4 separate regions of the Homo sapiens genome follow, and regions 2, 3 and 4 are each linked to region 1. Evidence: fine-mapped expression QTL. A gene starts in region 1. Each other region holds a variant in brackets. All regions are shown on one strand. Distances are from middle to middle. Region 1 holds the start of ABAT (4-aminobutyrate aminotransferase). Region 2 overlaps ABAT (4-aminobutyrate aminotransferase). Region 3 overlaps PMM2 (phosphomannomutase 2). Region 4 overlaps ABAT (4-aminobutyrate aminotransferase).

Region 1 (8,299 bases):
TCTCTAGGAAGACATCCCCTTGTCCCCAGGCACCTTGGCCCTGGCAGATTATCTACGGCAAGGGTTACAAGTTTTGCCTTAAGGCATAAGCACCTCCCCACTTCATGATTAGAGGTTTTATGACTTTGCACTTGTAATCATTGTTTCTGCTCATTTTGCTGTGTGCTAAACATTTTATGAGGATTAACTCATTTTACCCCAAGGATATGTCACAGAGAGGTTAAGATCAGACACTAAGTGGCAGATTTGTGCTCTCGACCCAGATAAGAGGTCTCCAGGGACCAACCTCTCGGCCTCTCTACCGTGGTCCTCCTCATGCTTTGAACTTCGCCTTGGCAAAGTTGGGGCACAACAACCAATCCTTTAGCTGGGAACTGGGTGGGGGCAGAAACAGAGAGAGCCTCTACTTCAGACCATGCTGCCCAGCTGGGTGGTCCTAGAGAATCTGCCAGAATTTCAGCTCTTTTCCCATGCAATGCCCCAGGAGAAAAGACGCAGGCCTCTGAACAGAGATGAGACAATGTGCAGGGAACTCAAAGCCAGAGGGCGTGGGCAGGGGCTAAGAGGGAGGGGACCTTGGAGGGAAGGAATATGACATCCTCAGGACCTGTCCAAAGTTCTTGGAGCAAACCCAGCTATGCAAGTGAGGTTCCTGCAGTAGCCTCCACTCCAGCATCTCATTCTCATTAGCTGCAACTGATCTTATTAGCTATCCTGGGTCAGTTTGGATTTTGGCAAGCCTAGATTTGGCAATGGCCTCAACACAAAGATCGCACGGGGTAAGCAGGGATGCGCTGACACCCAGGAATGGATTCCACGAGGCAGCCTGCTGGGGGATGGCATTGAGTTCCAGCTCTGCCCCTTCCTGGCTTCATGACCTTTGCAGAGCCTTGGCGCTTCCTCTGACAAGTGGGGACTTGGGACCCAGCAGTCCCCAAGTCCCCATTGTAAATGTGAGGACTGGGGCTTGTGTCAGGGATCCTAGCACCTTAAGGGTCCTGGAGGGGTTGGGGCCAGCTGTCTCCCACAGGCTGGGTGACCTTGAGCAAGTCTCTTCCCCTTTTGTGCCTCTGTGTGTTTAACTGTCAAATGAAGGGGCCACGTCTTTAATGCAGAAGCCCTTTTAGGTCTTAGGACTCCAGACTGGACCATTTACCTCTCCCCGTGGCTAACCTCTTTGGGCCTCGAGAAAACACATTTCTCTATGACTCCACGCCGCAACACAGGCTCCAAAGAGCAAGACACAACTCACTGCCTCCCTCTCTCCTGCCTCCCAACCTGACCCACCAGAGAAGAGCTCTTCCCACCCCCTCCCCACCCCCAGGTCACCAACATCCTGTCCCTTAGTCTAGCTTCATCAAAGCAGCAAAGCCAACACTGTCTCCTCCCCAGTGGATGGGCCCAGCAGCACCCATTTCTCTTGGCTGAGTGCCCAGGGAATTCCACCAGGCAATGTCCACAGGCGCTTGCGGGGGTGCACACTTTAGGGGGGAAATGCGGGCCCTCTTGGAAGAGGGCCAGCTGTCCTCCCAGACTGCAAGAGAGAATGCATTGAACACAGCCTTTGTGCGTGTGTTGGGGCAGGGAGCGGGGGAGAGGTGGCGGGTGGTCTCTGCTGGTCCTGCTGCCTCAGAGGCCATCTCTGTTGTCAGAGTTTGAAGACTCCTGGAAGGGCCTCTAGGCCCCAGATCCCAGTTTTAAGAGCTCCAGTCTTACTAAATCTCGCTGAACCCCCTCTAGTCTTACCTTGGCCAGGGTGGGTGAGGAAAGGTGAGAGGATGTGAAATAGGTGGGGCAGCCAGGTGTGGGAGTGGAGTTGGGGTGAGGTGGAGAAGGATGGGATTGGGAGCGGTGGGAGGATGGTGCAGGGGGTTACTAGGATGGGGTTTGTGTGAAAGGGCTTGGGTGGAGTGGAGGGAGGTGGATGACTTGGAGGGGTGGCCAGACCTTTGCCCTGCTCCTGAGTATGAAGGTCCCTCATTTTACATCTTTACTGGGGAGGAGAGGGGAAATCCCCAAAAGCCTTTAATGTGGTGGTGTCAGAGGCCACCCTGCCTCTCTGACGGGTAGGGAGGGGTCTCCGGCAGGGCTAAGGGTGAATCATCTATCTCTCCAGAGCCCAGTATCTGGGGTGGGAGGGTGACTTGCAGAGTCTCTGCTCCGGGATTTCCTTGTCTTATGATGGGGGGAGAGCTTCCATTTGTCATGGAGGGGGAGGTCACTGTAATTTATAAGCTGAGAAGACCCCCATTATTCCGAAAGAGAGGGGAGAAGGAAGACACCCAAACTTAGTTTTCTAAGGATGGGGAAGGGGCATCAGTCTCCCAAGAGGTGAGGGGGCTCTAGAGACCTGGAGACCACTTTTTGGGGCCGCATTCTATTTCAAGCGGTAAAAGGGAGAGGACTTCTGTCTAGAGCTGGAGCCAGGAGGAAGGGCCCATTTCTGAAGGAGAAAGGAAGGTATTTTGCTCTCTGGGGGGTGGGAGCCCCTGTCTTTTCGGGGGAGGGCCCCGCGTCTTGGGAAGATGAGGGCTCCGTTTCCAGGAGAAGATGCCCAGGTTTTGCTCCTGGGGGCAGGGCAGAAGGACCTCCTCTCGGCTCCCCTCGGAAGGGCCCGTCCCAAGCCACCCGGCGCCTCGCGCTCACCTCCAGGCCCCGTCTCCGATCTGCGGGATCCGATCCGCCGGGTTCCGACTTGCGGGATGCGCGCCCCGAGTTCCGGCAGCGCTGGGTGTCTGCTCGACTTCCCCCAGCGACTCGCCGGACTCCCTGGCTCCGCCGAGCGTCCCGGCCAATCAGCGCCGCCAGCCCCGGCCCTCGCTTTCGCCACAGCCAATGGGTGCGCCCGCCACGGGCCACCGCCCCCAGGAGGGAGGTGGCAGGCGGGGCGGGGGCAGAGTCCAGCCTCCGGGGGCGGGGGAGACGGGGGCTGGGGCGGGACCCACCAGAGGGACCGCGAGGGCTGGGAGGGAGTCCTGGGACTGGGGAGGAGACGGCTGAGGACCCCCGTCAAGTTGTGGGGACCCTGACCCTCTGGGGGGCAGCTCCATAGGTTGATTTAACCTGGATCTTAATGGGCCATTTACACCCTCAGGGCTGCAGGCGAGTGTAACTCCACCTCCACCCGCGTCTCGGATCCGGTCTCTGGAGCTCCAGAGTCGGAATCAGAAGGGGTTCCTTTGCGGAGAAGGGAAGGAGCATCCCGCCCTCCCCACCTCACTCCCCATCTCGGCGCTCAGGGCCCTGCCAGCCCTTCTTGCTCCCAGCTACTTTCCTCCGCCTGGCCCCAGCGCTCCGGAAGACAAACAGGGCGCTGGGAGTCAGAGGTGGTTCCTTCTGCATGACCTGGAGCAGGTCACTGCGCCTCCTGATCCTCAATTTCCTGAAATTGGGACAACAGAGATTGTACCTCCTTCGTGGGTATAAACGAGACCCTAGATATGATGAAGGTGCCTTTCTACCGTTGTATAAAATGCTGTGTGGAAGATAATTAATACTCAGGTGTGACGGATGGATAGCCCCCCCACAGCTTTCTAGAGGTATTTGGAAAGAGGATGCAATCTTTCAGTGACAAAATCAAAGACACAAAGAACTGCTCATCAAGACAACAGGCGATCACCAAGTCCTCATAATGAATGAATGGATGGATGGAGAGTACAGACCTTAAAGGCAGAGAAAGAGTTCAGCTTGGTTCTCCCCACTCACCCTGATCACTGATAACTTGGTCTGTGGAGTCTTGTAGAACCCTGAGGTCTCTCCTCCTGCTGTCCAGGAATCCAGGCTGCCCTATCTCTGATTACACAAGCGCTATAGTCCTTGCAATTAAAGAATTAAGATAAAGTAAACACATAGATAAATAGAAAGCTGCCAAACAAATCATTCACCTCCTAGTGTCACCTCTGGGGACCCTCCCCCCCAACACACACACACACACACACACACACACACACACACACACACAGAGCAGTAAATAAGAATAATTGAGGCCTGGCACAGTGGCTTACGCCTGTAATTCCAGCACTTTGGGAGGCCGAGGCAGGCAGATCACTTGATGCCCAGAGCTCGAGACCAGCCTGGCCATCATGGGGAAACCCCCTTTCTATTAAAAATACAAAAATTAGCCTGGCATGGTGGCACCTGCCTGTAATCCCAGCTACCTGGGAGGCTGAGACATGAGAATCGCTTGAATGGAGAGGCAGTGGTTGCACTGAGGTGAGATGGCACCACTGCACTCTAGCCTGGGTGATTGTCACCTTGCTTGAGGAACTTGATGAGGCCTGTGCTGAAAATCTAGCAATTTTTTCTTAAAACCAAAGCCATGAACATAATCCCCTTTACTACCCTTGACCTGCCCAAAGAAATACAACGGCCAATAAACATGGGAGATGACACTTTGAAAAGGAAAGGCAAGTTAAAACCAAAAGAGGGAAAGAGTTTACCTACCAAAATGACCTTGTTTTTATTATTATAATTACTATTCTTTGCAAAGACTTCAAGGAGTTTCATGTATTGATGATGGCAGTAGAAAGATCACAGCCTTTCTGGAGGGAAATTGGGTATTTCTATTTTAAAAATCTTAAAAGTAAGTTGACCCTTTGATCTAGCAATCCAATCCCTATGAACTTATCTGAAAACATTTAAAGGTACAAAGATTTAATGATAAAGTAGCTTACTACCATTTTGTTTATCACAGGGAAAAACTGGGAACAACTTGAATGCACAACAGCAGGGACTCAGAGGGAAATTGTTGCATGAAATTGAACAATAAACATAGGTATGAAATATTGAATGGGGCTGGGTGTGGTGACACGCCTGTAATTCCAGCACTTTGGGAAGCCAAGGCAAGAGGATCGCTTGAGCCAAGGAGTTCAAGACCAGCCTGGGTAACATAGTGAAACCCTGTCTCTACAAAAAATACAAAAATTATCCGGGCGATGTGGCGCATGCATGTAGTCCCAGCTACTCAGGAGACTGAGGCAGCCTTGAGCCTGGGAGGTTGAGGCTGCTGTGGGCCAAGATTACACCACTGTACTCCAGCTGGGTGACAGAGTGAGACCCTGTCTCAAAAACAAAACAAAACAAATCTCAAAATGTTAAGTTATTTGCAAAAACAGTATATTTGGTACTGTCTTACTTTTTGTTAAACATCTTACTTTTTGTTAAATCTACCAGGTAGAGCTAGATCAATGCTGTGTAATATAACTTTCTATGATGCTCTATATCTGTGCCGTCCCGTGTGGTAGCCACTAGCCACATGGAGGTATTGAACACCTGAAATGACTAATTTTGGTATCCAAGATGTTTAAAAAAAAAAAAGAAAGAAAGAAATAATAAAAAAAGGAAAAGGGAAAAATAAATTTAAAATTTTGGAAAAAGCAATGACTAGTTAACCGAATAACTGTATTTTAATTGTATCTATTTATTTATTTTTTTAGAGACGGAGTCTCGCTCTGTCACCCAGGCTGGAGTGCAGTGGTGTGATCTCAGCTCGCTGCAACCTCTGCCTCCCAGGTTCAAGCGGTTCTCCTGCCTAAGCCTCCTGAGTAGTTGGGATTACAAGCGTGCTCCACCACGCCTGGCTCGTTGTTTAATTTTTTAATTTTTAGTAGAGACAGGGTTTCGTCATGTTGGCCAGGCTGGTCTCAAACTCCTGGCCTCCAGTGATCTGCCTGCCTCAGCCTCCCAAAGTGCTGGGATTACAGGTGTGAACCACCACGCCCAGCCTGTATCTAATTTTAATTTAAGGTGTAACAGTAACAGGTAGCTAGTGGCTATCATATTAAAAGGCACCGATATAGCTAGCTAGCAATGCTGAGTGAAAAACTGTGTTCAGTAGGAGAATGGTTATTTTTGTGTATTGAAATTATAGATTATTCTAATATTACTTTATTTGCATGTCCATGTCAGTAATTTCTTTTTATCCCCTTGGGTTTATTTTTAATAGAGGATAAACTTTACAATGTCACTAATTTCTAATTATTCTGTAATGAATATATATTACTCTGGTACTAAGAAGAAAATATTTAAAATGAAAAACAGAAAGGAAAAGTCTAAACCAAAGGGCCCGGAGTGGTGGCTCACACCTGTAATCCCAGTATTCTGGGAGGCTGAGGCGGGCAGATCACTTGAGGCCAGGGGTTCGAGACCAGCCTGGCCAACATGGCGAAACCCCATCTCTATTTATAAATAATTTTTTTTTAAAAAAGAGTCTAAGCCAAAGGTTGACAAACTATAGCTCATAGACCAAATGTAGTTCATCATGTTTTCCTATGACCATGAGCTAAGATTGGTTTTACATATTAAATGGTTAAAAAAATTCACAAGAAGAATAATGTTATGTGACACATAGAAACTACATAAAATTCAAATTTTACTGTGCATAAATAAAATTTTATGGGAACACAGCCAGGCCTATTTATTTATGCATTGTCTATGGCTGTCTGTGAGCTACAACAGCAGAGCTGAGTAGCTGTGACAGAGACTCTGTGACCTGAAAAGACAACAATATTTACCTTCCAGCCCTTTGCGAAAAATCTGCCGTGTCCTGGTCTAAGGCAATCAAGGGAAATAAGAAGTGTGTGTAGCCATCTTCATTCATCTGTTCATTCATTCATTCAACTAGGTTTTGAGCACCCATTTGTGGGTCAGGCCCTAGGAAAGGGCACTTCTAGAGGATAAAAGGAGCTGCTTTGTCTCTACTTAAGGACTAGGGAGAGAAGGCTATTTAGAGCCAGGTGCTTTGCAAGCTGATTCTCAAATAGCTTCATTGTGATACTTGTGAAGAAAACTGTCAGCATGTGGAAAAAGCCCTTTCCATATTGGCTTCCCTTGCATTTTCTGCCATTCTGCAGTTTTCCTATGGAGCTGCTTGGGGTTGCAGCTGTCTGCCAGGGAATGCAGAGTGTTTCCCAGAGTTTGGCTGAGGCCTGGGATGAAGACTCACCCATACTCTGTGCCTATCAATAAGCTCCTTCCAGAAGCGCAGCTGTAGCTGGGAGGGCCCCCACTGCACTCTGGAGAGGAGAAATGAAAACAAAGGCAAGGGTGAATGAGGCTCCAAGGGTACCAGTTGTCTCCACAGGAGAGACTCTTAGAGATCAGCAGCCCATTGTACAGAAGAGGAGACTGAGGCCCAGAGAGGAGGAATAACTTGTCCAGAGCCAGATTAAAGCACATATTTTATTGACTAGGCCTGTGATTTCCACATCCCTGGTCACAAAATAATAAAGAGATATCATCTATACAAAATAATAAAGGGCATTTTGATGTGGTGGAAAGGGGATCAACTTGGGAGTCAGACCTAATATTGAATTCTAGTTCCAACTCCCAATGGCTATGTGACTCTGGACATGTCATTTACTCCCTCTCAGTCTCTATGTTCTAATCTGTAAATTGAATAAAGTATCTACCACGTTTTCACATGTAAAAGAAAGAAGATAGACGCTTACCTCACACCATATAAAAAAACTAACTCAACATTGGATCAAAGACCTAAATAAATATAAGACCTAACACTATAAAATTCTTAGAAGAAAACATGGGAAGGGGGAACAGGTGCAATGGCTCACACCTGTAATCCTAGCACTTTGGGAGCTCCAAGGCTGCCGGATCACTTGAGCCCAGGAATTTGAGACCAGTCTGGGAAACCTGGCAAAACCCCACTGTTAGAAAAAATACAAAAATTAACCAGGTGTGGTGGTGTGTGGCTGTGGTCTCAGCTACTTAAGAGGCAGAGGTGGGAGGATTGCCTGAACCTGGGAGGCAGAGGTTGCAGTGAGCCAAGGTTGTGCCATTGCACTCCACCTAGCCTGGGTGACAGAGCAAGACTCCATCTCAAAAACAACAGCAACAAAAAAGCATTTTGATTGTACTTAATGCCATTGAATTGTACACTCTAAAATGGTAAAAATTGGTGAATTTTGTGCAATGTGTATTTTACCATAATAAGGAAAAAAGTATGTACCACAGTAGGTCATTGGTTGGGTAAGTAAGGGAAGTTTGCTCCTGGTCCCTGCTGGGCACTGTGCATTAGCCCTGTACATAGTTGTACTAGTTTCACCAAACTATCTGCTTGATTGTGAGAGGTGGGCCAGAGCTCATTCATTCATTTAGTAATTTTTCCATCAATTTGTTCAGTCAACAAATACACATTTAGCACCTACTGCGTGCCAGGCATTGGGGATTGTGGTCCTGACCCCATGGAACTTCCATTCTGCAGCTGGGAGACAGTGTATAAGAAGATGAATGTGTAACTAAGAAAGCTCTTTTCTTTTTTTTTTTTTTTTCTTTTCCTTTCTCT
Region 2 (8,299 bases), 110 kb before region 1:
CATTAAGTGAAGACTTACTATTTGTATACTTTTTTTTGTTTCGAGACAAGGTCTCACTCTGTCGCCCAGGCTGGAGTGCAGTGGTGCAATCATAGTTCACTGCAGCCTCAATCTCTTGGGCTCAGGCAATCCTCCCACCCCAGCCTCCCAAGTAGCTGGAATTATAGGCACATGCCACCATGCCAATAAAAATTTTAAAATTTTATTCTTAGTAGAGACAGGGTCTTGCTGTGTTGCCCAAGCTGGTCTCAAACTCCTGAGCTCAGGCGAATTCACCCGCTTTGGCCTCCTGAAGTGCTGGGATTACAGGCATGAGCTACCACACCCAGTCTTGTATGCCTGTTTTTAAGATGAGGAAATTGAAGCTTGGAGAGGTTAAGGGAATCTGCTCCCAATCACACAACTTGAAAGTTAGGATTTGATACACACTGATGTGGAAGGATGCTGTAATATTAGCATGTGGACAGATGTGAGTGTATGTGCACTTGTGTGCAGTCAACTCAGGACTAGCTGAGGGTAGGAACTGTCAATCGCTCAAGGAACTTTCTCTCGGCCAGCCTGGCCATCAGCCTTGGAAGGTCAACTTGACCTGGTCGGCGTTGAGTGTGAGCTCCGACATGCACATTCCTAAGGTAGGTGAGTTGAAGGCACCGGAACTTCAAGGTCAGTAACCCTTTGATGGCCAGGCACGGTGGCTCCCGCCTGTAATCCCAGCACTTTGGGAGGCCAAGGTGGGAGGATCACCTGAGGTTAGGAGTTCGAGACCAGCCTGGCCAACATGGCGAAACCGCATCTCTACTAAAAATACAAAAAAATTAGCTGGGTGATCTGCCCACTTCGGCCTGCTGAAGTGCTGGGATTACAGGTGGGATCCACTGTGCCTGGCCAGTGGCACTTTTCAAAAAGCTCTTTCGGGTGATTCCTAAGCGCGTCCAGCGTTGAGAATCACCGTCCCGGATGCTTTGGATTCTCTACTTTTCTCTCTCTCCGTCCCCATTATTTTCCTAATTCATTCAGGCCACCAGGTGAGCGTGGCTGCAATAGACTCCTAACTGGCCTCCCTGCCTCCCTGTTCTTCACCGTGAACACTCAGGACAACCTTTCTATATATATTTTTTGAAACGGGGTCTCACTCTGTCGCCCAGGCTGGAGTACAGTGGCGTGATCTTGGCTCATCTTAACCTCCGCCTCCCAGCTTCAAGTGATTCTCCTGGCTCAGCCTCCTAAAGTGCTAGGATTATAGGTGTGAGCCACCACGTCCAGCCAGGACAATCTTTCTAAAACACCCCTCGGTTTGCTCCCTTGCATCAAGCCTCTGGCGGCTCCATCACCAGCATGGAAAGCCCACGCCCCTCATGTGGCACAGAAGGCTCTCGAGGGGCCCAGCTCCTGCCTGTTTTCTGGGCTCTTCTAGTCTCCTACTCTTTGTGATCTAGTGATACTGAACTTTTCATAGACGCCTGCTGTCGCCCTGTCTCTGTGCCTTCGTGGACCTCTTCTCTTGTGGAATGCCTTCCATCACTCTGGAGCAGCTTTTGCTCAGCCTTGAAGATGAAACTCAGGGGCTTAACTGCCACCCTGACTGATGTGAGGGGCCCAGCCTTTGTGCCTCTGCTGCATCCAGTGTTTTCCCACGTCCTGCTCCTTACACTGTTTTTTTTTTTTTTGGTTATTTTTTTATTTTTATTTTTTATTTTTCTTTACCTTGCTAGAATGTGAGCTGCGAGGCCAGGCGCAGTGGCTCACGTCTGTAATCCCAGCACTTTGGGAGGTTGAGGTGGGCGGATCACCTGAGGTCAGGAGTTCGAGACCAGCCTGACCAGCATGGTGAAACCTGTATTTACTAAAAATACAAAAAATTAGCTGGGCCTGGTGGCAGGTGCCTGTAATCCCAGCTACTTGGGAGGCTGAGGCAAGAGAATTGCTTGAACCTGGGAGGCGGAGGTTGCAGTGAGCCGAGATCGTGCCATTTCACTCCAGCCTGGGCAACGAGCAAAACTCCATCCAAAAAAAAAAAAAAGGGGGGCCGGGCGTGGTGGCTCACGCCTGTAATCCCAGCACTTTGGGAGGCTGAGGTGGGCGGATCACAGGGTCAGGAGTTCGAGACCAGCCTGGCCAAGACAGTGAAACCTCGTCTCTACTAAAAATACAAAAATTAGCTGGGCGCGGTGGCGAGCGCCTGTAATCCCAGCTACTCGGGAGGCTGAGGCAGCTTGAACCTGGGAGGCAGAGGTCACAGTGAGCCGAGATCATGTCACTGCACTCCAGCCTGGGTGAAAGAACTAGACTCTTGTCTCAAAAAAAAAAAAAAAAAGAATGTGAGCTGCGAGTACGGACCACATGTTGTCCATCCTTGTGTCCCTGTCACATAGCATGTCCTCGATTTACTTAATGAAATGCATGGCCTTACAGTGCTTCCTGATCCCAAGGCAGAGTTATGCATGTAGAGTGTTCCCCAAGACATCCCTAAGAGGTATATAACAGGCATTTAATAAGTACTTGTCACCTAATTATTTAACAAGACCATTTCCACCAAAAAAGTCCACATTCACTCATGTTTCAATTATAAATTTTATTTAAGAATACTGACTAACACAGGAAACAGATTTAATTCATGGAATTGTGCATATGGTCATCCGTTACATTGTGACATGTTAATTTTTTTTTTATCATTTATTGGCACTGTCAACAGATTACTTGTGAACAAGATCACTTTGTACGCTTAAGTCTGCGATGCTACTTAGCTATGGTTTTCTACCATGAGCTTATATATAGATAGGTGTAGGTATGTAGATACATTAATGCTATACACAATTTTGCATGGTTACTGAGCGTCAGTAAAAATTATGAAAAAACACCCATTTATAATAAAAGTGAGGATGTACTAAGACTTGCTATTACTGGACCTTGTTTTCTGTAAAAGTGATGACACTTGCTGGACGGTTACTAAACTCTATGGCACTAATGTATGATGGATTCATTTCCAGACTGTCGGCCACGGAAGCACTTCTTCATGGCCTCTGCCCTGGACAGCAGCCTGTCCTCCGGGCTCCCCATGTTTTTACCAGCTTCTGCTGAGTTTCTACAATCTTGAGCTCTGCTGAGAATTCTTTTCCTTGAAATTCTTCTA[G/C]CTAAAGCCCCAGCCCCCAAAAGAGCATGTCTCAGGAACTCATTATGCCCTGAGTCAACAAGAACTTGTTGATAAATGGCTTAAAAGTTTTTACAAGAAGTAACTTCCCTTGGTAAGGAGTAAATAATAGCTCTGGAATTTTCCAGATAAAACTATTTCATTTCTCTGTCAGTGCCCCATGGGGAGAGAACGAAATATTGGAGCCCCTCTCCCTACCAAAGAGAGCCACTTTTCTGGTTGTGCCCTGGCTTAAAACCCTTTGGACTCCGAGAACCATACTGAATATTTGCACCCAATGCTAAAGTTTTCAGGAGAAAGCATACTTAAGCCAATAAATGAATAATGGTTTGGTTTGCATTTTGCTTGCTTGTTAAATAAGGCCTTATTGAACCTTGGGATGCTGCCTGTGGAAACTGGCTTCCCCAGTGAAAGATGTGATGCCATGAACTGATACGCCTTTGCATATGCTGTTCCCTCTCTGCAACACCCTTCCTTGCCTTGCCTGCTTGGTGAACTCTGGCTCATTCTGCAAAACACTGCTCCAATGACACCTTTTCTTTGAAACCTCCTCTGACCCTTGGGTGAATGGTGGTTCTCCATCCGATTTCCTGATGCTTTTATTCACACCTCTGTCATAGCACTTGGCGCCTGCTTGAATTGTTAGTTTAAGAGTCTGTTGTTTCCAGTGGCATGTGAGCCCCCGGGGGCAGGGACAATGTTTTATCTCATCTTTGTATTCCCGATGCTCCGCACAGGGCCTGGGATGGTGCAGCTATTTAATGAAAGTTAGGTGAATGAATGAATGATGAATAAATGAATATAAAAATGAGGAAAACCTTGCAGAGAGTGGGAGGCATACATCACCACTTGGCTGGGAGTGCAGGTGACCTTAAACCTGGCAGAACTCCTGATTAAGAACGACGGATTAGCACTGACTGCAGGAATGCAAAATGAACAAGAATTCACGAATTTGTATATGTTAAACTTGTCATTGCCTTTCATTCTTCAACAAAAATAGGTCGATGACCAAGTCTGCGGAAGAGTGGAAGCTAAAAAAAAAAACCCTTACTTTGAGATCTTTGGACGATTTGTTATTAAAAGAGCAAAGTGCTGAATCAGGAACCTTGATATGCCTATTTCCAAAATAGTCAACCAAGGCACCGGGAGATGAAGAGGCTTCCTTTTGGACAGATAATACAAGCCAGGCTTTCTCAGACTCCCCACCAAATAATACTTCTCTGCTGTCAGGCTATCAAGTTCTCTTTTAGGAGCATTCGAGGTCAAATCAGTTCCCAGAGTGTCTCACCTCCAGCAGAGATGCTACAGCCTCAGCCACAGCCCCTTTAAGCATTTCGGTATCATCTGCCTGGTAATCTCCATACTCAGTCATCTCAGGAAAATCTCTCATTTCAGGAGGATCAAGTACAAGGAAACCACGTTGAACCAACAGGCCACTTTTCCATGCATGGAGCTCTGGCACCTTTAATTCATGGTGCTTCCCTCCAGAAGAAATCCAGTCCAGCAATGATTCCCTCTGCTCTGGTGGAACAGCCAAGCTGTTCCTGGGGGTCAGCTCACAAGTGGTGTGAAGGTGGATGAGCAAAAGAGAGGAAGAGCCTCTTAGGGCGAGGGAGCCAAAAGTCAGACCTCAAGTTGCCCTGGGAAACATGATGCGATGGCTCTGCTGCCCCAGACCCTGGGCTTTTCCTCCTGGGGTGACGGGCCTGTGCTTCTAGCCCTGTGGCTCACGTGTGTCCCTGTGGACACTCAGGCTACAGTTTCCTCCCACCCAGGTCCAGGTCTAGGTTGACATTTAACAGGGAGGAGGGAGTTTGGGGAATGGAGGATGCCGAGTAAGAATCACGGGTAAGGCCACCTGGGGATCCTCCAAGGGCAAAGCCCTGTCCAGGGCAGAATTCACAGTTTAGGGGGATCCCCAGGTGCACTGAGAGGGGTGATTCTCATCTTCAGGGGGCCAGAGGACCTCTTCCCTTACTCCTGAGCTGAATCCTCCTGTCCCCATTTTACGGCCTTCCTCAGATCTGTCCAGTCCCTCCTGCACCATGCGTGGGGCGTGCTCAGAGCTCCGGGAGGCTGGGAGAGGAGGTGAGAGTGTGTTTGCTTGCATAGGGCGAGGGGGAGCCAACATCCGTGATCACAGAATATGGCACTTGAGATGGACTGGCACCCAGGAGGCCCAGCTGCCAGTCCCAGGAACAAATGTAATGCCCTTGACTGGCTTTTGGAAAAATTGCTGGGGTTGGTCAAGGTTGGGCAGAACTCTAGCCAGGACCTCCCATGGCCCTTCCCAAGATGAGTCCAGGGCTCAAGCAGGATCTCTGGGCTTAAACCAATGTGCACCATTGGCTCTGCAGGGAGGAAAATCAACACCAGCCCTTCCCTCCCCTCCCCTCCCCCAAGACCACCAAAAATGCTCCCTCCCCACAAATCACCCTTCACTGTGCATTCACCTCTGATACTTTTAAGTGAAAACATGAATTAGGCAAACTAATCAATTTGACAACTGTTGGGATCCGGGCTTTCTCACTGTAGTGGAAATGGCTTCTTTACTTGAAGTCTGCTAAGATGTCACTGAAAATATTGAGGAACAGGTGAGCGTGGTGATCCCTGAAGACCAGCGTGGGACGGAAACGAATGGATTTGTCACCACAGCCACCCAACACCACACCTGAAAGAGGCAGGAGGTAGGTGAGGAGCGTGGTTTCTCAAAGTCACATGCTGGGAGAGCTGGGGGGAAAGTGATGCCTGTTGGCAACGCTCATCCATCCATCCATCCATCCATCCATCATCCTCCATCATGGAAGCCCGGGCTTCCTTCCTACCACCCACCCATCCAGTCTTCATTTCCTTTCTCTCTCCCCTCATTCATCTCCTCCATCATTCTCTTCTTCCTTTCCTTCCCTCCACACTTCCTTTTTCCCTTCCTCCCTCCCTCTCTCCTTTGAGTGCCTGCTTTGCTGCCCCAAGCTAGGTCTGGTGATAGAGAAATCCTGAGATAAAGTCCTTGCCTTCCACAAAGTCATGGAGGAGTGGGAAAAGAAAATAGGTAAGCAAATAAGTTGCAAAAGCACAGGCTGAGTCGGAAGCATGTGTGAGGTGCTGAGCTATTACGGAGGAGGGACAGGCTCTGCTTATTTTAAAGGGTGACTTCACAGTTACAGCTGGTGTCCTTTCCTTGTCGAGGTTGTTTATGCCTTTTTTTTTTTTTTTTTTAGAGATGGAGTCTCGCGCTGTCACCCAGGCTGGGGTGCAGTGGCAACCCAGTCTCACTCACTGCAACCTCCACCTCCCAGGTTCAAGCCATTCTCCTGCCTCAGTCTCCCAAGTAGCTGGGATCACAGGTGCCGCCACCACGGCCAGCTAATTTTTGTATTTTCAGTAGAGATGAGGTTTTGCCCCGTTGGCCAGGCTGGTCTCGAACTCCTGACTTCAGCTGATCTGCCCACGTCGGCCTCCCAAAGTGCTGGGATTACAGGCGTGAGCTACTGCACCCGGCCTGTTTATGCCTTTGAGACCACGTTTTCTCATTTTTAAAATGGAGGTTGATTATCCCTGCCCTTCTGAGGCTGCTGCAAGGATTCTGTAAGATGGCACAAGAAGAACTGACAATGTGCCTGACATAGAGTACGTGCTCTGATCTCACCACAGCGTCTGCCCTTACCCCTGCCACACATGTCCTCAGTGGCTTCCCACAGCTCCTAGGATGAAGTCTGGAGTGCTAAGCCTGATCTGCAGGCCCATGCGACCCGGGCCTGGCCTCTCCTCCCCCAGCTTCATCCCCTCCCAACCGTTCGCCTTCACGCCCCCTTCTTTCCCTTTTACCACCTCTGTAAGCTCCATCCCACCTCAGGCCATCGCATGCACCCTTCCCTCCGCCCAGAATGCTCTTCCTTACCTTCTTCACCCAGCCAATCCCTGTTTGTCAAGACTTAGGGTAAAATGCTACTTCCTCAAGGGAGCCTGCCCTGATTTCCTACCCTCACCAACTGCTGCAGCTATCTGCTCTCTTAGCTGCGTTTTCTCCTTCCCAGGACTTAAAATTGCAATGGATTGGTTGTGAAATGCCATGTGTAAAGCCATGCCTTCCTGCTACACTGCATGCTTCCTGAAGGAAGGGGCTCTGATGGTCTTCATCATCACTGTAACTGTCTCCAGTGTCCACTTACAACTCACCTCCTCAGCGAACGCTTGTTGAGTAAATAAATGGATAAAGAAATCCCATTTGTAATGTTCTCTTCTTTGGAGAAAGAGCATTCAGGCTCTTTTCAGACCTGTGTACCACCTGCCCCCCACACAAAATATTGCTGAGTACCTAGCAACATGTGGCAGCTACAGCAGGAGATACTGGATGCTCATGAAACTCAGCAGCCACTCCTGACCCCTTACCTTTGTTTCTGGCAATTAAAATGAGCTTATTCCGTATGGAATCATCGGGAGTATCGAAGGAGCAAAAGGTGCCTCGTCCTCTCACCCTGCTGATGAACTGGGGGTACCGGGCCTGTAGTGGGAGGAGACAAGGCTGGCGTCAAAGCCCATCACCTGTGTACCAGCTGGGCTTAATGGCTGTGCTTCGTCAAAGGCCTCCCATGGTCCAGCCTCGGCCTCTGCATGGACTGGCAGGACCTCCAGGGGGTTAAGAGCTCTGGGGACATTCAGGCCTGGGTTCAAAGCCCAGCTGTGCACATGTGTGTTGTGTGGAGGAAAAAAACCACCACCACCACCACCAGCAACAACAACCAAGCCCAGCTCTGTCCCTCTCACTGTATAACCTTGGGCCACTCAAGTGCCTCTGTTTACCCTGCTATAAACTGAAGGATTTAAATGCTGTTGACCCCACTGGGGCCGTGGTGAGACTTTAGCACGATAAGGTTCACATGTTAAGTCCTAAGCCTGGGGCTGGGCACTTGGTGGATGCTCCACAGATGTTAGCCATCTCCATCGTCAGCTCTTCTAGAAAGGTGGTTCTTCTGGAAGAAGAAATGCCTGTCCTCCCTCAGGGCTTTGAGACTGGGAGCTGTACTGGATTGAATAGTTTCCTCCCACTGCCCCCTAAATTCATGTTTACCTGGAACCTATGACTAGGACCTAATTTGGAAATAAGGTCTTCGCAGAAATAATTAGTTAGGTTAAAATGAAGTCTTCCTGCAT
Region 3 (6,482 bases), 170 kb before region 1:
CGTTCCCCTGCACCCCTTGTCCCAGCCTCTCTTTGCTTTCACCTGGACTGACCCTGACACCCATCAGTCCCAGCAGCTTACCTGGGCTGTGCTGCCACAAGGTTTCAGGGACAGCCCTCATTACTTCAGCCAAGCTCTTTCTCATGATCTACTTTCTTTCCACCCCTCCGCTTCTCACCTTATTTAATATATTGATGACCTTCTTCTTTGTAGCCCCTCCTTTGAATCTTCTCAACAAGACACACTTCTGCTCCTTCAGCATTTACTCTCCAAAGGATATCAGGTATCCCCCTCCAAAGCTCAAATTTCATCCTCATCTGTTACCTATCTCGGCATAATTCTCATAAAAACACACGTGCTCTGCCTGTTGATCTTGTCTGATTAATCTCCCAAACCTCAATCCCTTCCAAAACAACAACTCCCTTCCTTCCTAGGCATGGTTAGTGCGGTCAGAATTCTTACACAACAGCCAGGACCACACCCTGTAGCCTTTCTGTCCAAACAACTTGACCTTACTGTTTTAGCCTAGCCCTCATGTCTGCGTGCAGCGGCTGCCGCTGCTTTAATACTTTTAGAGGCCGTAAAAATCACAAACTATGCTCAACTCACTCTCTACATTTCTCATAACTTCCAAAATCCATTTTCTTCCTCATACCTGATGCATATACTTTCTGCTCCCCGGCTCCTTCAGCTGTACTCACTCTTTGTTAAGTCCCACAATTACCATTGTTCCTGGCCCGGACCTCAATCTGGCCTCCCACATTATTCCTGATACCACACCTGACCCCCATGACTGTGTTTCTCTGATCCACCTGACATTCACCCCATTTCCCCATATTTCCTTCTTTCCTGTTCCTCACCCTGATCACGCTTGATTTATTGATGGCGGTTCCACCAGGCCTAATCGCCACATAGCAGCAAAGGCAGGCTATGCTATAGTACAAGCCACTAGCCCGCCTCTTAGAACCTCTCATTTCCTTTCCATCGTGGAAATCTATCCTCAAGGAAATAACTTCTCAGTGTTCCATCTGCTATTCTACTACTCCTCAGGGATTATTCAGGCCCCTTCCCTTCCCTACACATCAAGCTTGAAGATTTGCCCCCACCCAGGACTGGCAAATTAGCTTCACTCAACATGCCCCGAGTCAGATAACTAAAATACCTCTTAGTCTAAGTAGACACTTTCACTAGATAAGTAGAGGCCTTTCCTACAGGGTCTGAGAAGGCCACCGCAGTCATTTCTTCCCTTCTGTCAGACATAATTCCTCAGTTTAGCCTTCCCACCTCTATACAGTCTGATAACGGACCAGCCTTTACTAGTCAAATCACCCAAGCAGTTTCTCAGGCTCTTAGTATTCAGTGGAACCTTCATATCCCTTACAGTCCTCAATCTTCAGGAAAGGTAGAACGGACTAATGGTCTTTTAAAGGTACACATCACCAAGCTCAGCCTCCAACTTAAAAAGGATTGGACAGTACTTTTACTTCTTGCTCTTCTCAGAATTAGAGCCTGTTCTCGAGATGCTACAGGGTAGGTACAGTCCATTTGAACTTTTATATGGACGCACTTTCTTGCTTGGCCCCAACCTCATCCCAGACACCAGCCCTCTAGGCGACTGTCTTCCAGTCCTCCAGCAGGCTAGACAGGAAATTCGCCAGGCTGCTAAGCTTCTCTTGCCTACTCCAGATCCCCAGCCATATGAAGACACCCTAGCTGGACGATCAGTTCTTGTTAATCTGACTCCTCAAACTCTACAACCTCGATGGACCGGACCCTACTTAGTCATCTATAGTACCCCGACTGCTGTCCGCCTGCAGGATCCTCCCCACTAGGCTCACCGTTCCAGAATAAAGCTGTGTCCATCGGACAGCCAGCCTAATCCCTCCTCTTCCTCCTGGAAGTTGCAAGTACTCTCCCCTACTTCCCTTAAACTCAGTCGTATTTCGAAGAACAGTCATAACCCTTATGAGCCTAATACATCCCTTCATTCTATTAGGTTTTTCGTCCTTACCCTACTTTTTGCAACAGGGCTTTACGAAGTCACCCCCACCACTTAGGCCGAGCCCCAAAAAACTAGTCATCCCTACTATCTTCTGTCTGGTCATACTCCTATTCTCCATTCTCAACTACTTATAAATGCCCTACTCTTGTTTACACGGCCGGTTTACACTGTTTCTTCAAGCCATCACAGCTGATATCTCTTGGTGCTATCCCCAAACTGCCACTCTTAACTCCCTCTTAGAGTGGATAGATGATCTTTGCTGGCAAGGCACCCTCCAATATTTCCACCCTGATGAAGTTCTATTCTTTACTTTTATACTCACTCTTATTCTCATTCCCATTCTTATGCCACCCTCTACCTCTCCCCAGCTATCTCCACCACACTATCAACCTTACCCATTCTCTCCTAGCCGCTTCTAATCCCTCCTTAGTGAACAACTGCTGGCTTTGCATTTCCCTTTCTTCCAGTGCCTACACAGCTGTCCCCACCTTACAGACAGACTGGGCAACATCTCCCATCTCCCTACACCTCCGAACTTCCTGTAACAGCCCTCACCTTTACCCTCCTGAAGAACTCATTTACTTTCTAGACAGGTCCAGCAAGACTTCCCCAGACATTTCACATCAGCAAGCTGCCGCCCTCCTTCACACTTATTTAAAAAACCTTTCTCCTTTCTCCTTTCTCCCCCCATATTCGGACCTCTCACAACACAAACTACTATGCCTGTGGCCGCTCCTATATGTATCTCTCGGCAAAGACCCACTGGAATTCCCCTAGGTAATCTTTCACCTTCTCGATGTTCCTTTACTCTTCATCTCCAAAGTCCAACTACACACATCACTCAAACAATGGGAGCCTTCCAGCTCCATATTACAGACAAGCCCGCTATCAATACTGACAAACTTAAAAACATTAGCAGTAATTATTGCTTAGGAAGACACTTGCCCTGTATTTCACTCCATCCTTGGCTACTTTCCCCTTGCTCATCAGACTCTTCCTCCCAGGCCCTCCTCTTGTTTACTTTTACCCAGCCCCGAAAATAATAGTGAAAGGTTGCTTGTAGATACTCAACGTTTTCTCATACACCATGAAAATCGAACCTCCCCCTCTATGCAGTTACCCCATCAGTCCCCATTACAACCTCTGACAGCTGCCGCCCTAGCTGGATCCCTAGGACTCTAGGTACAAGACACCCCTTGCAGCACTCCTCATCTTTTTACTTTACATCTCCAGTTTTGCCTCGCACAAGGTCTCTTCTTCCTCTGTGGATCCTTTACCTAACATGTGTCTACCTGCTAATTGGACAGGCACATGCACACTAGTCTTCCTTACTCCCAAAATTCAATTTGCAAATAGGAACGAAGAGCTCCCTGTTCCCCTCATGACACCGACACAACAAAGAAGAGTCATTCCACTAATTCCCTTGATGGTCGGTTTAGGACTTTCTGCCTCCACTATTGCTCTCGGTACTGGAATAGCAGGCATTTCAACCTCTGTCATGACCTTCCGTAGCCTGTCTAATGACTTCTCTGCTAGCATCACAGACATGTCACAAACTTTATCAGTCCTCCAGGCCCAAGTTGACTCTTTAGCTGCAGTTGTCCTCCAAAACCACCGAGGCCTTGCTTACTCACTGTTGAAAAAAGAGGACTCTGCATATTCTTAAATGAAGAGTGTTGTTTTTACCTAAATCAATCTGGCCTGATGTATGACAACATAAAAAAACTCAAGCATAGAGCCCAAAAACTTGCCAACCAAGCAAGTAATTACGCTGAACCCCCTTACGCACTCTCTAATTGGATGTCCTAGGTCCTCCCAATTCTTAGTCCTTTAATACCCATTTTTCTCCTTCTTTTATTTGGACCTTGGATCTTCTGTTTAGTTTCTCAATTCATCCAAAACTGTATCCAGACCATCACCAATCATTCTATACAACAAATGTTTCTTCTAACATCCCCACAATATCACCCCTTACCACAAGACCTCCCTTCAGCTTAATCTCTCCCACTCTAGGTTCCCACGCCGCCCCTAATCCCGCTTGAAGCAGCCCTGAGAAACATCGCCCATTCTGTCTCCATACCACCCCCCAAAAATTTTCACCGCCCCAATACTTCAACACTATTTTATTTTTCTTATTAACATAAGAAGGCAGGAATGTCAGGCCTCTGAGCCCAAGCCAAGCCATCGCATCCCCTATGACTTGCACGT[A/G]TACATCCAGATGGCCTGAAGTAAATGAAGATCCACAAAAGAAGTAAAAATAGCCTTAGCTGATGACATTCCACCATTGTGATTTGTTTCTGCCCCACCCGAACTGATCAATGTACTTTGTAATCTCCCCCACCCTTAAGAAGGTTCTTTGTAATTCTCCCCACTCTTGAGAATGTACTTTGTGAGATCCACTCCTGCCCACAAAACATTGCTCTTAACTTCACCGCCTATCCCAAAACCCATAAGAACTAATGATAATCCACCACCCTTTGCTGACTCTCTTTTCGGACTCAGCCCGCCTGCACCCAGGTGAAATAAACAGCCATGTTGCTCACACAAAGCCTGTTTGGTGGTCTCTTCACACGGACGCGCATGAAACACTTCAATCTCTCCCTTAATTTCAATTCCTTTCATTTTCTGGTAGAGACAAAGGAGACACATTTTATCTGTGGACTCAAAACTCCGGCGCCGGTCAGAGACTGGGAAGGCAGCCTTCCCTTGGTGTTTAATCACTGCAGGGACGCCTGATTATTTACCCACGTTTCAAAGGTGTCAGACCATGCAGGGACGCCTGCCTTGGTCCTTCACCCTTAGCGGCAAGTCCCACTTTTCTGGCGGAGAGGCAAGTACACCAACCCCTTCTCTCCGTGTCTCTACCCCTTCTCTGCTTTTCTAGGGGAGGGGTAAGTACCCCAACCCCATGTATCTCTGCGCCCCGATCCCTTATTTCTGCGCCCCAATCTCTTATATCTCTGTGCCCCAATCCCTTATTTCCGTGCCCCAACCCCTTCTCTGCTTTTCTGGAGGGCAAGAACCCCCCACCCCTTCTCCGTGTCTCTACTCTTTTCTCTGGGCTTACCTCCTTCACTATGGGCAAGCTTCCACCTTCCATTCCTTTCTTCTCCCTTAGCCTGTGTTCTTAAGAACTTAAAACCTCTTCAACTCACACCTGACCTAAAACCTAAATAAATGCCTTATTTTCTTCTGCAATTCCACTTGACCCCAATACAAACTCGACAGTAGTTCCAAATAGCCAGAAAACGGCACTTTCAGTTTTTCCATCCTACAAGATCTAAATAATTCTTGTCGTAAAATGGGCAAACGGTCTGAGGTGCCTGATGTCCAGGCATTCTTTTACACATCAGTCCCTTCCTAGTCTCTGTGCCCAGTGCAACTCGTCCCAAATCTTCCTTCTTTCCCTCCCACCTGTCCCCTCAGTCGCAACCCCAAGCGTCGCTGAGTCTTTCTAATATTCCTTTTCTACAGACCCATCTGACCTCTCCTCCTCGCCAGGCTGAGCTAGGTTCCAATTCTTCCTCAGCCTCCGCTCCTCCACCCTATAATCCTTTTATCACCTCCCCTCCTCACACCTGGACCAGCTTACAGTTCATTCTGTGACTGGCCCTCCCCCACCTGCCCAGCAATTTACTCTTGAAAAGGTGGCTGGAGCTAAAGGCATAGTCAAAGTTAATGCTCCTTTTTCTTTATCCCAAATCAGATAGCGTTTAGGTTCTTTTTCATCAAATATAAAAATCCAGCCCAGTTCATGGCTCGTTTGGCAGCAACCCTGACACGCTTTACAGCCCTAGACCCTAAAAGGTCAAAAGGCCGTCTTATTCTCAATATACATTTTATTACCCAATCTGCTCCCGACATTAAATAAAACTCCAAAAATTAGAATCTGGCCCTCAAACCCCATAACAGGACTTAACTAACCTCACCTTCAAGGTGGACAGTAATAGAAAAAAGTGGCAATTCCTTGCCTCCACTGTGAGACAAACCCCAGCCACATCTCCAGCACACAAGAACTTCCAAACGCCTGAACCGCAGCAGCCAGGCGTTCCTCCAGAACCTCCTCCCCCAGGAGCTTGCTACACGTGCTGGAAATCTGGCCACTGGGCCAAGGAATGCCCACAGCCCGGGATTCCTCCTAAGCCGCGTCCCATCTGTGCGGGACCCCATGAAAATCAGACTGTTCAACTCACCTGGCAGCCACTCCCCAGAGCCCCTGGAACTCTGGCCCAAGGCTCTCTGACTCCTTCCCAGATCTCGGCTTAGCAGCTGAAGACTGACACTGCCCAATCCCCTCGGAAGCCCCATAAACCATCACGGACGCCGAGCATCGGGTAACTCTCACAGTGGAGGGTAAGTCCATCCCCTTCTTAATCAATACGGAGGCTACCCACTCCACATTACCTTCTTTTCAAGGGCCTGTTTCCCTTGCCTCCGTAACTGTTGTGGGTATTGACGGCCAGGCTTCTAAACCTCTTAA
Region 4 (8,299 bases), 55 kb before region 1:
AGAACGGGCCAGGATGACAATGGCGGTTTTGTGGAATAGAAAGGCGGGAAAGGTGGGGAAAAGATTGAGAAATCGGATGGTTGCCGTGTCTGTGTAGAAAGAAGTAGACATGGGAGACTTTTCATTTTGTTCTGTGCTAAGAAAACTTCTTCTGCCTTGGGATCCTGTTGATCTGTGACCTTACCCCCAACCCCGTGCTCTCTGAAACATGTGCTGTGTCCACTCAGGGTTAAATGGATTAAGGGCGGTGCAAGATGTGCTTTGTTAAACAGATGCTTGAAGGCAGCAGGCTCGTTAAGAGTCATCACCACTCCCTAATCTCAAGTACCCAGGGACACAAACACTGCGGAAGGCCGCAGGGTCCTCTGCCTAGGAAAACCAGAGACCTTTGTTCACTTGTTTATCTGCCGACCTTCCCTCCACTATTGTCCTATGACCCTGCCAAATCCCCCTCTGTGAGAAACACCCAAGAATTATCAATAAAAAATAAATAAATTAAAAAAACAAACAAACAAAAAAAAAAAACAAAAAAAACCTAAAGTAGTCAACCTCCTAGAAACAGATAGAGGGTCTGGGCATGGTGACTCATGCCTCTAATCCCAGCACTTTGGGAGGCCGAGATGGGTGGATCACTTGAGGTCAGGTGTTCAAGACCAGCCTGGCCAACATAGTGAAACCCCGTCTCTACCAAACATAAAAAATTACCCGGGCGTGGTTGTGAGCTCCTGTAATCCCAGCTACTTGGGAGGCTGAGGCAGGAGAATCACTTCAACTCGGGAGGCAGAGGTTACAGTGAGCTGAGATCGCACCACTGCACTCCAGCCTGGGCGACAGGGCGAGACTCTGTTTCAAGGAGGAAAAAAAGAGAAACAGAAAAAGAGGAAAAAGAGGTTGCCGAGGGCTGGGGGAAGGGAAAAAAGGACATTGTTTAGTGTGTTTGGAGTTTCAGTTTGCAGGATGAAGTAGTTCTGGAGCTTCACTATACAACAAAAGTGCTTATAATACCGTACTGTATACTTGAAAATGGTGAAGATGGTAAATTTTATGTTATCTGTGTGATTTTTAAAATAACAATTAAAAAAAAAAAAAGAAAAGTGATCCAGGAAAGACATTGGTGTTGAGGTTGACATACCTATCAAGGACAACTAGACAACTACCACGGCTTCCAGTGCTTTGACAAAACTCAGGTGTGTGGCCTTCTGGTCCAGAGTCTGCCATTTCACATTGTTGGAGCAGTCATTGTATCCCTGAGAGTTGCAGCTCTCTATAAGTTTGCTGTGGCTGAACCAAGAAACAAGGCATATGTAGAAGCGATGAGGATGGCTGTTATTGTTCAGAGTGCAAAGTGATTTTGGAATATAAAGAATTTCTTTGGGTTGAGTTACCTAGAAGTTTATCACTGACCTGTGTTCCTGAACTATGAAACATGAATATGGGGGCTAAGAAATAGTTTCTCTTTGGGCTGGCAGGGTGGCTCACTCCTGTAATCCCGGAATTTTGGGAGGCCAAGGCAGGTGGATCACTTGAGGTCAGGAGTTCGAGATCAGCATGGCCAACACAGTAAAACCCTGTCTCTACTAAAAATACAAAAATTAGCTGGGTGTGGTGGTGCACGCCTGTAATCCCAGCTACTCAGGAGTCTGAGGCACAAGAATCGCTTGAACCTGGGAGGCGGAGATGGCAGTGAGCCAAGATCACACCACCGCACTCCAGTCTGGGTGATAGAGTGAGACACCGTCTCACACACAAAAAATTAGAAATAGTTTCTCTTGATAAATAAACAATTAATGAGTACTTTGGACAGTAAACAAAGTAAAACTATTTTTTTTAAAAGAAGCCATGTGGTTTACCCAGGACACAGCAAGTTGCTGGTGGAGCCAGCGTTGGGGTTGAGAGATATCTGGCTCAGGAGTCCTGGCTTGTGCCTAATGCATGGATTTATTGCGAGTTGCAACACCTGAAACTTACTCTGTGACAGACCCTGGGGACGCAGCCCTTTCCTCATGCAGCCCTGGCTTGGGCTGCCTAACTCTACCCAGCCCCACAGTGGACAGAAATTCCATCCTAGACCTGGATGAAGACCAAGAGGCTTCTCCCACCCCCTGCTTCTGTGATGACAGCATATAGGAAGTGCCAACCAGAGGTGATAAATACAGACCTAGAGAGATCCCACAGCTGGAGGGGAGGCCTGTATCCAAGGAGAGAGAACAGGGCAAGGAGGAATGACAGGCGGGTTCAGAGTACAGGTTCAGGTGCTGGGAAACACGTGGGCTCAGCAGCACAGGGCAGGAATAGTGTGGAGAATCAGGCACCGAGCCCAGGATGGCGAGTTCCAGCACGCTGTGGCTGCCCACAGAGCTAATAGAATGTTGGCTGTATTATTAGAAGGAAAGAGTGAATGAAGGAGGGAGGCGGTTGCCATTGATGCATTTGTGCTACGAACATTCATGGTACACCTACCGTGTGCCAGACCCTTCACTGGGCACTAGGGCACATAAAGATCAATTAGAGGCCGTCCTTACCCTCTAAGCATCATCAAGTACTGGGCACTTGCTATGTGCAGGCTCTCAGCTGGTGCTGTAGAACCATCTCGTTTCATCCCCAGAGCCCTAGGAGGCAGCTCCTAGAAGACAGAGACAGGTCATTATCCTGTCTTCAGGCAACTGAGGTACTATCACGGGTGGGGTGGGGTTGGTGCAGGAAGTATCTTCTGGGGTGTCTGCTCTGCACTTCCTTCCTCCCCCTTCTCAGATACTTCCCCATTCCTCTGCGGGGGCATAGACCTGGCCCTACTGGCCATGGTTGACTAGACAGGGCTGGGCCAGAGTCCTGACACTCTCTACCCACTGAGATGATCCAGCATTCAAACAGGGTCTTTTTTTTTTTTTTTTTTAAGACAAAAAAGGGCTAGACAAAAGAAAGACTAGAGAGCAGTGGCGTGATCATTGCTCACTGCAGCCTTGAACTCCTGGGCTCAAGAGATCCTCCCACCTTAGCCCTGCCAAGTAGCTGGGACTACAGGCATGCACCACCATACCCAGCTAATTTTTAAATATATATATTTTTTAGAGACAGGGGTCTCGCTGTGTTGCCCAGGCTGGTCTCAAACTCCTGTGCTCAAATGATCCTCCCATCTTGGCTCCTGAAGTGCTGGGATTATAGGCATGAGGCATGGTGCCTGGTCTTTGTGAGACATTCTGAAGGGTACATTACTCCCTTCTCTTTGCTCAAACATCTATAGGAGTAGGGTAATCTCCCTGTTCAGAGATGATAAAAGGGAGGCTCAGAGAGGTTATGACATTCGGCCTCAGTCATAGGCTTACCTGAGACTGTCTGACCCCAAAGCCCCTGCCTCTATGCATTGTAACATCAGTTAATCCAGCTAATAACAAAACTCCTAGCTGTTTTTGTTTTTGTTGAGACAGGGTCTGGCTCTGTCACTCAGGCTGGAGAGCAGTGGTGTAATCTTAGCTTACTGCAACCTCTGCCTCCCCCAGGGTCAGGCCATCCTGCCACCTCCCAAGTACCTGGAACTACAGGCGAACGCCGCCACGCCCAGCTAATTTTTTTTTTTTTCAGTAGAGCCA[G/T]GTTTTTCTCACGTTGTGAAGGATGGTCTTGAACTCCTGAGCTCAAGTAATCTGCCTGCCTTGGCCTCCCAACGTGCTGAGATTACAGGCGTGAGCCACCGTGCCCGGCCCCTAGCTATTGTTGATATGAGGCTTCATGAATAAAAATGACGTAGTTCACAGAATAAATTTTATTGCTTTTCACCAGAGGAAACTTTCTGAGAAAGTGTGGGCTTGGAAAGTGTGGCCATGAATTAACTGAGAAACCAAACTCTTTGTTTTTGAGATGGAGTCTTGTTCTGTTGCCAGGCTGGAGTACAGTGGCGTGATCTCGGCTCACTGCAACCTCTGACTCCCTGGTTCAAGCGATTCTCCTGCCTCAGCCTCCCGAGTAGCTGGGATTATAGGCATGTGCCACCACACCTGGCTAATTTGTGTATTTTTAGTAGAAATGAGGTTTTACCATGTTGGCCAGAAGGTTCTCAATCTCCTGACCTTGTGATCCACCCGCCTCTGCCTCCCAAAGTGCTGGAATTACAGGTGTGAGCCACTGTGCATGGCCCAAACTCTTTTCTTAATAACTCAATGGATTTTTTTTTTCTATTCCAGGATATCCGACTCAATGCAAGCCTATTAATTTAGCAACAGAGTAACTGTGTAGAAAGTGCAGTTCATGTCTTTCCCTTAAAACCACTTGTCTGAAACAGGGAGCACTGAGGCGTCACACAATTCAATTTCCATTAAACACGTTTTTGAAACTCCGAATGTCTCAGAGAACTCAACATTTGAATATTCTGCAAAAGTGAGAGCCAATCCCACACGTTTTCAATTACAAAATGTCACATTGGAAAATATACCGTGGTGACATTTTGGTGGCCTGCAGTTGAAAATTGACCTTATAACAAAATCTGATCTCTGTTAGACATTAATTCTTAGCACAATATATTTCAAACAATTGGAAGAGTTAACGTCATTCATTCACTCCCTCTCATCCACTAATTCAATCAACACAAGTTAATTAGGCACCTGTTATCAGCAAGGCACTGCATCGTTTAGATATAATCAATCTCTCTCTCTCTCTCTCTCTGACAGGGTCTCACTCTGTCGCCCAGGCTGGAGTGCAGTGGGGCGATCAGGGCTCACTGCAGCCTCTATCGCCCGGGCTCTAGCAATCTTCCCATCTCAGCCGTCCAAGTAGCTGGGACTACAGGCATGTGCCATCATGCCTGGCTAATTTTTTTAAATTTTTAGTAGAGATGAGGTCTTGCTATTTTGCCCAGGCTGGTCTCAAACTCTTGAGCTCAAGTGATCCTACCATCTTGGACTCCCAAACGGTTGGGATTACAGGCATGAGCCACCGCTCCTGGCCAAGTCATCACTTCTCTTAGGAGAAACCAAGATGGATAAATTGCTTTCTTTCTGAAGCTCATAATTTAGTGGCAGAGAACTATGAGCGGAAAGAAAATGGAAGAATTTAATGTACTAGGCTGCTTTACCCATCATGTGAATACTTTCTTAAAATAACTCAGCATGATATGTACATAAAAATTTTCCAGTTCACTGTCAACAACAAATTCTGCATAAGATAGAACAGAATCACAACTATTTTGCTGGTGTGAGTGAAGTGCTAAGGGAATACGGGGAGATTCTTTCTGGCTGGGGTGACAATGTCAGGGAGGTGTTGCCTGAGCTGCATCTTCAAAAGTTAGGCGATTTCAGAAGGCAATGAAGAAAGCAGGGATAAGGCAAGTGCTCGGAGGTGTATGATGACACGGAGTAGCTAAGGATCCTGGTGCACAGTGAGAGTGGGTGTGGTAAGAAATCATAGAGCACTTGGAGGGAAGGTGAAGGTGCGGTCATCTGGAGCCAACTCGAGCAACAATTTCTAGGCTGATCTTGATTGATAGGGCCCTCTGGAGACCCTCTCAAAGGGAGGAGGGAGCCCAGCTGCTCTAGTTGCATCCAGAAGGGTCTGTCCTCCAGCAAAGGATACAACCAACAAAGCGAAGAGGCAACCCACAGAACAAGAGAAAATATTTACAAACTACTCCTCTCACAAGGGATTAATAACCAGAATATAAAAAGGAGGTCAAACAACTCTATAGAAAAAAATCTCATAATTCGATCAAAAAATGGACAAAAGATTTGAATAGATATTTCTCAAAAGAAGACATACAAATGGCAAGCAAGCACATGAAAAGGTGCTTGACATCACTGATCATCAGAGAAGGCAAATCAAAACTACAAAGAGCTGTCATCTCACCCCAGTTAACATGGCTTATATCCAAAAGACAGGCAATAACAAATGCTGGAGAGGATGTGGAGCAAAGGGAACCCTTGTACATTGTTAGTGGGAATGTAAACTAGTACAACCACTATGGAGAACAGTTGGAGGTTCCTCAAAAAACTAAAAATTGAGCTACCATATGATCCAGGAATCCCACTGCTGGGTAAATACACAAAAGGAAGGAACTCAGTATATCGAAGAGATATCTGCACTCCTATGTTTGTTGCAGCATTGCTTACAATAGCTAAGATTTGGAAGCAACCTGAGTGTCCAATAACAGATGAATGGATAAAGAAAATGTGGTTCATACACGCAATGGAGTACTATTCAGCGCAGTGGCTCACACCTGTAATCCCAGCACTTTGGGAGGCTGAGGCAGGTGGATCCCATGAGGCCAGCCTGGCGAACATGGCTAAACCCCATCTCTACAAAAAACAAAAATCATCTGGGTGTGGTGACCCATGCCTGTAGTCCCAGTTACTAGGGAGGCTGAGGCAGGAGAATCGCTTGAACCCGGGAGGCAGAGGTTGCAGTGAGCCGAGATGGCGCCACTGCACTCCAGCCTGGGCAACAGATCGAGACTCCATCTCAAAAAAAAAAAAAAAAGATCTAGTCATTTGCAACAACGTGGATGGAACTGGAGATCATCATGTTAAGTGAAATAAGCCAGGCACACAAAGACAAGTGGCATGTGTTCTCACTTATTTGTGGGATCTAAAAATCAAATCAATTGAAGTCACGGGCATAGAGAGTAGAAGGATGGTTACCAGAGGCTGGGAAGGGTAGTGGCGGGTTGAATGGGAGGTGGATAGTTAATGGGTACAAAAAAAATTAGAAAGAATAGAAGGGTCTGTGTTTAGGCAGGCTCCCAGGGAGGGGCAGGGAGCATGCACTCAGCATGTCAATGAGATGCTGGGGTCACTGAGCTGGGGAGGGGGTTCTCGAGGCAGGTGTGTTGGAGGGCACCCACTGGGGTGGGAGTTGATGAGGAGTAAGAAGGCAGGGATTAGCTCTTAAACCCTCAGTCCTAGAGTTGGCATGGCCTTTTAAGAATTACAAGTTCCTCAAAAAGTTAAGCATAGAATTACTACTACATGACCCAGCAATTCCACCCCTAAGTACTAGGTTGGTGCAAAAGGAAATGACCTTTGCATCAACCCAAAGAACTGAAAACAGAGACTCAAACAAATACACATAGCAGCACTATTCACAAGCGCCGAAAGGTAGAAAAAGCCCAGATGTCGATCAGTGGATGAATGAATAAACAAAACATGGTCTATCCTTACAACGAAATATTATTCAGTCATAAAAAGGAATGAAGTTCTGACACATGCTACAACATGGATAAATCTCAAAATATTTTTTATGCTATATGAATGAATGCAGAGGTAAAATGCCCCATAGTCTACGAATCCATTTATAGGAACCTTCAAGAGTAGGTGAATCTACAAAGACAGAAAATAAATCAGGGGTTGGCAGGGGCCTGGGAGGAATGAGAGATGACTGCTTAATGGGTACGGGGGTCTCCGGGGTGATGAAAAAAATCTGGAATTAGATAGCGGTGGTGGCTGCACAGCATTGTGGATGTTCTAAAAGGGTCTGAGTTTTCACTTAAAAAGGTTAATGTTATGTTTATCTTAATAAAAATGAAAAAGCCAGGCGCGCTGGCTCACGCCTATAATCGTAGCACTTTGGGAGGCCGAGACGGGTAGATCACCTGAGGTCAGGAATTCGAGACCAGCCCGACCAACATGGAGAAACCCCGTCTTTACTAAAAATACAAAATTAGCCGGGCGTGGTGGCAGGCGCCTGTAATCCCAGCTACTTTGGAGGCTGAGGCGGGAGAATCGCTTGGACCCGGGAGGCGGAGGTTGCGGTGAGCCGAGATGGCGCCACTGCACTCCAGCCTGGGCAACAGAGTGAGACTCCATCTCAAAAAAAAAAAAAAGAAAAAAGAGATATTGGAGTTGGCTGTCTTTTGTAGATGGGAAGGGAGAGGACCAAAGAAGTGTGTGTAGAGTAATGACACACTCTGATCACACAGACTTATTCTTCAATTTCCACCTGCTACAGGCTGTGTGACCCCAAGATTGCCATTGTTTTTTTTTTTTTTTTTTTTTTTGTTTTTTTTTTTTTTCCTGAGACAAGGTCTGGCTCTATTGCCCAAGCTGGAGTGGAGTGGTGCCATCTCAGCAACCTCTGGCTCCCAGGCTCAAGTGATCCTCCCATCTCAGCCTACCGAGTAGCTGGGACTATAAGCACATGCCACCACACCTGGCTAATCTTTGTATTTCTTTTTTGGAGAGATGGGGTTTCACCATGTTGCCCAGGCTGATCTTGAACTCCTGGGCTCAAGCAGTCCTCCCACCTTGGCCTCCCAAAGTGCTGGGATTACAGGTGTGAACCACCATGCCTAGCTGAGAGAAGCTAATTTTCTGTGCAGTAT

What was found. PIP is the estimated chance that this variant, and not a neighbour inherited with it, causes the effect.
Region 2: its variant is the best candidate, but not a certain one, in a credible set for the expression of ABAT in whole blood (TOPMed, PIP 0.90).
Region 3: its variant is the best candidate, but not a certain one, in a credible set for the expression of ABAT in fibroblasts (GTEx, PIP 0.69).
Region 4: its variant is the best candidate, but not a certain one, in a credible set for the expression of ABAT in whole blood (INTERVAL, PIP 0.64).

What each region holds. Positions count from the first base shown.
Region 1 is chr16:8,669,059-8,677,357 of GRCh38, reverse strand. It overlaps ABAT (4-aminobutyrate aminotransferase), which reads right to left and starts at 2,741. Exons shown (of 16, transcript NM_020686.6): 1 at 2,647-2,741. RefSeq lists a silencer at 2,689-3,148 and enhancers at 2,743-3,242, 3,243-3,744.
Region 2 is chr16:8,778,829-8,787,127 of GRCh38, reverse strand. It overlaps ABAT (4-aminobutyrate aminotransferase), which reads right to left. Exons shown (of 16, transcript NM_020686.6): 15 at 7,538-7,649; 16 at 2,558-5,819. The coding sequence ends at 5,698. Among named protein-coding and RNA genes, the nearest start is that of TMEM186, 15 kb to the left of the region's middle. The variant G/C (reference allele first, on the strand shown) is at 3,131.
Region 3 is chr16:8,836,076-8,842,557 of GRCh38, reverse strand. All of the region lies in intron 7 of PMM2 (phosphomannomutase 2), which reads right to left. Among named protein-coding and RNA genes, the nearest start is that of CARHSP1, 30 kb to the left of the region's middle. RefSeq lists enhancers at 5,574-6,106, 6,107-6,482. The variant A/G (reference allele first, on the strand shown) is at 4,211.
Region 4 is chr16:8,724,423-8,732,721 of GRCh38, reverse strand. The region is part of intron 1 of ABAT (4-aminobutyrate aminotransferase); the gene reads right to left. Among named protein-coding and RNA genes, the nearest start is that of ABAT, 54 kb to the right of the region's middle. RefSeq lists an enhancer at 83-668 and a silencer at 5,329-5,557. The variant G/T (reference allele first, on the strand shown) is at 3,588.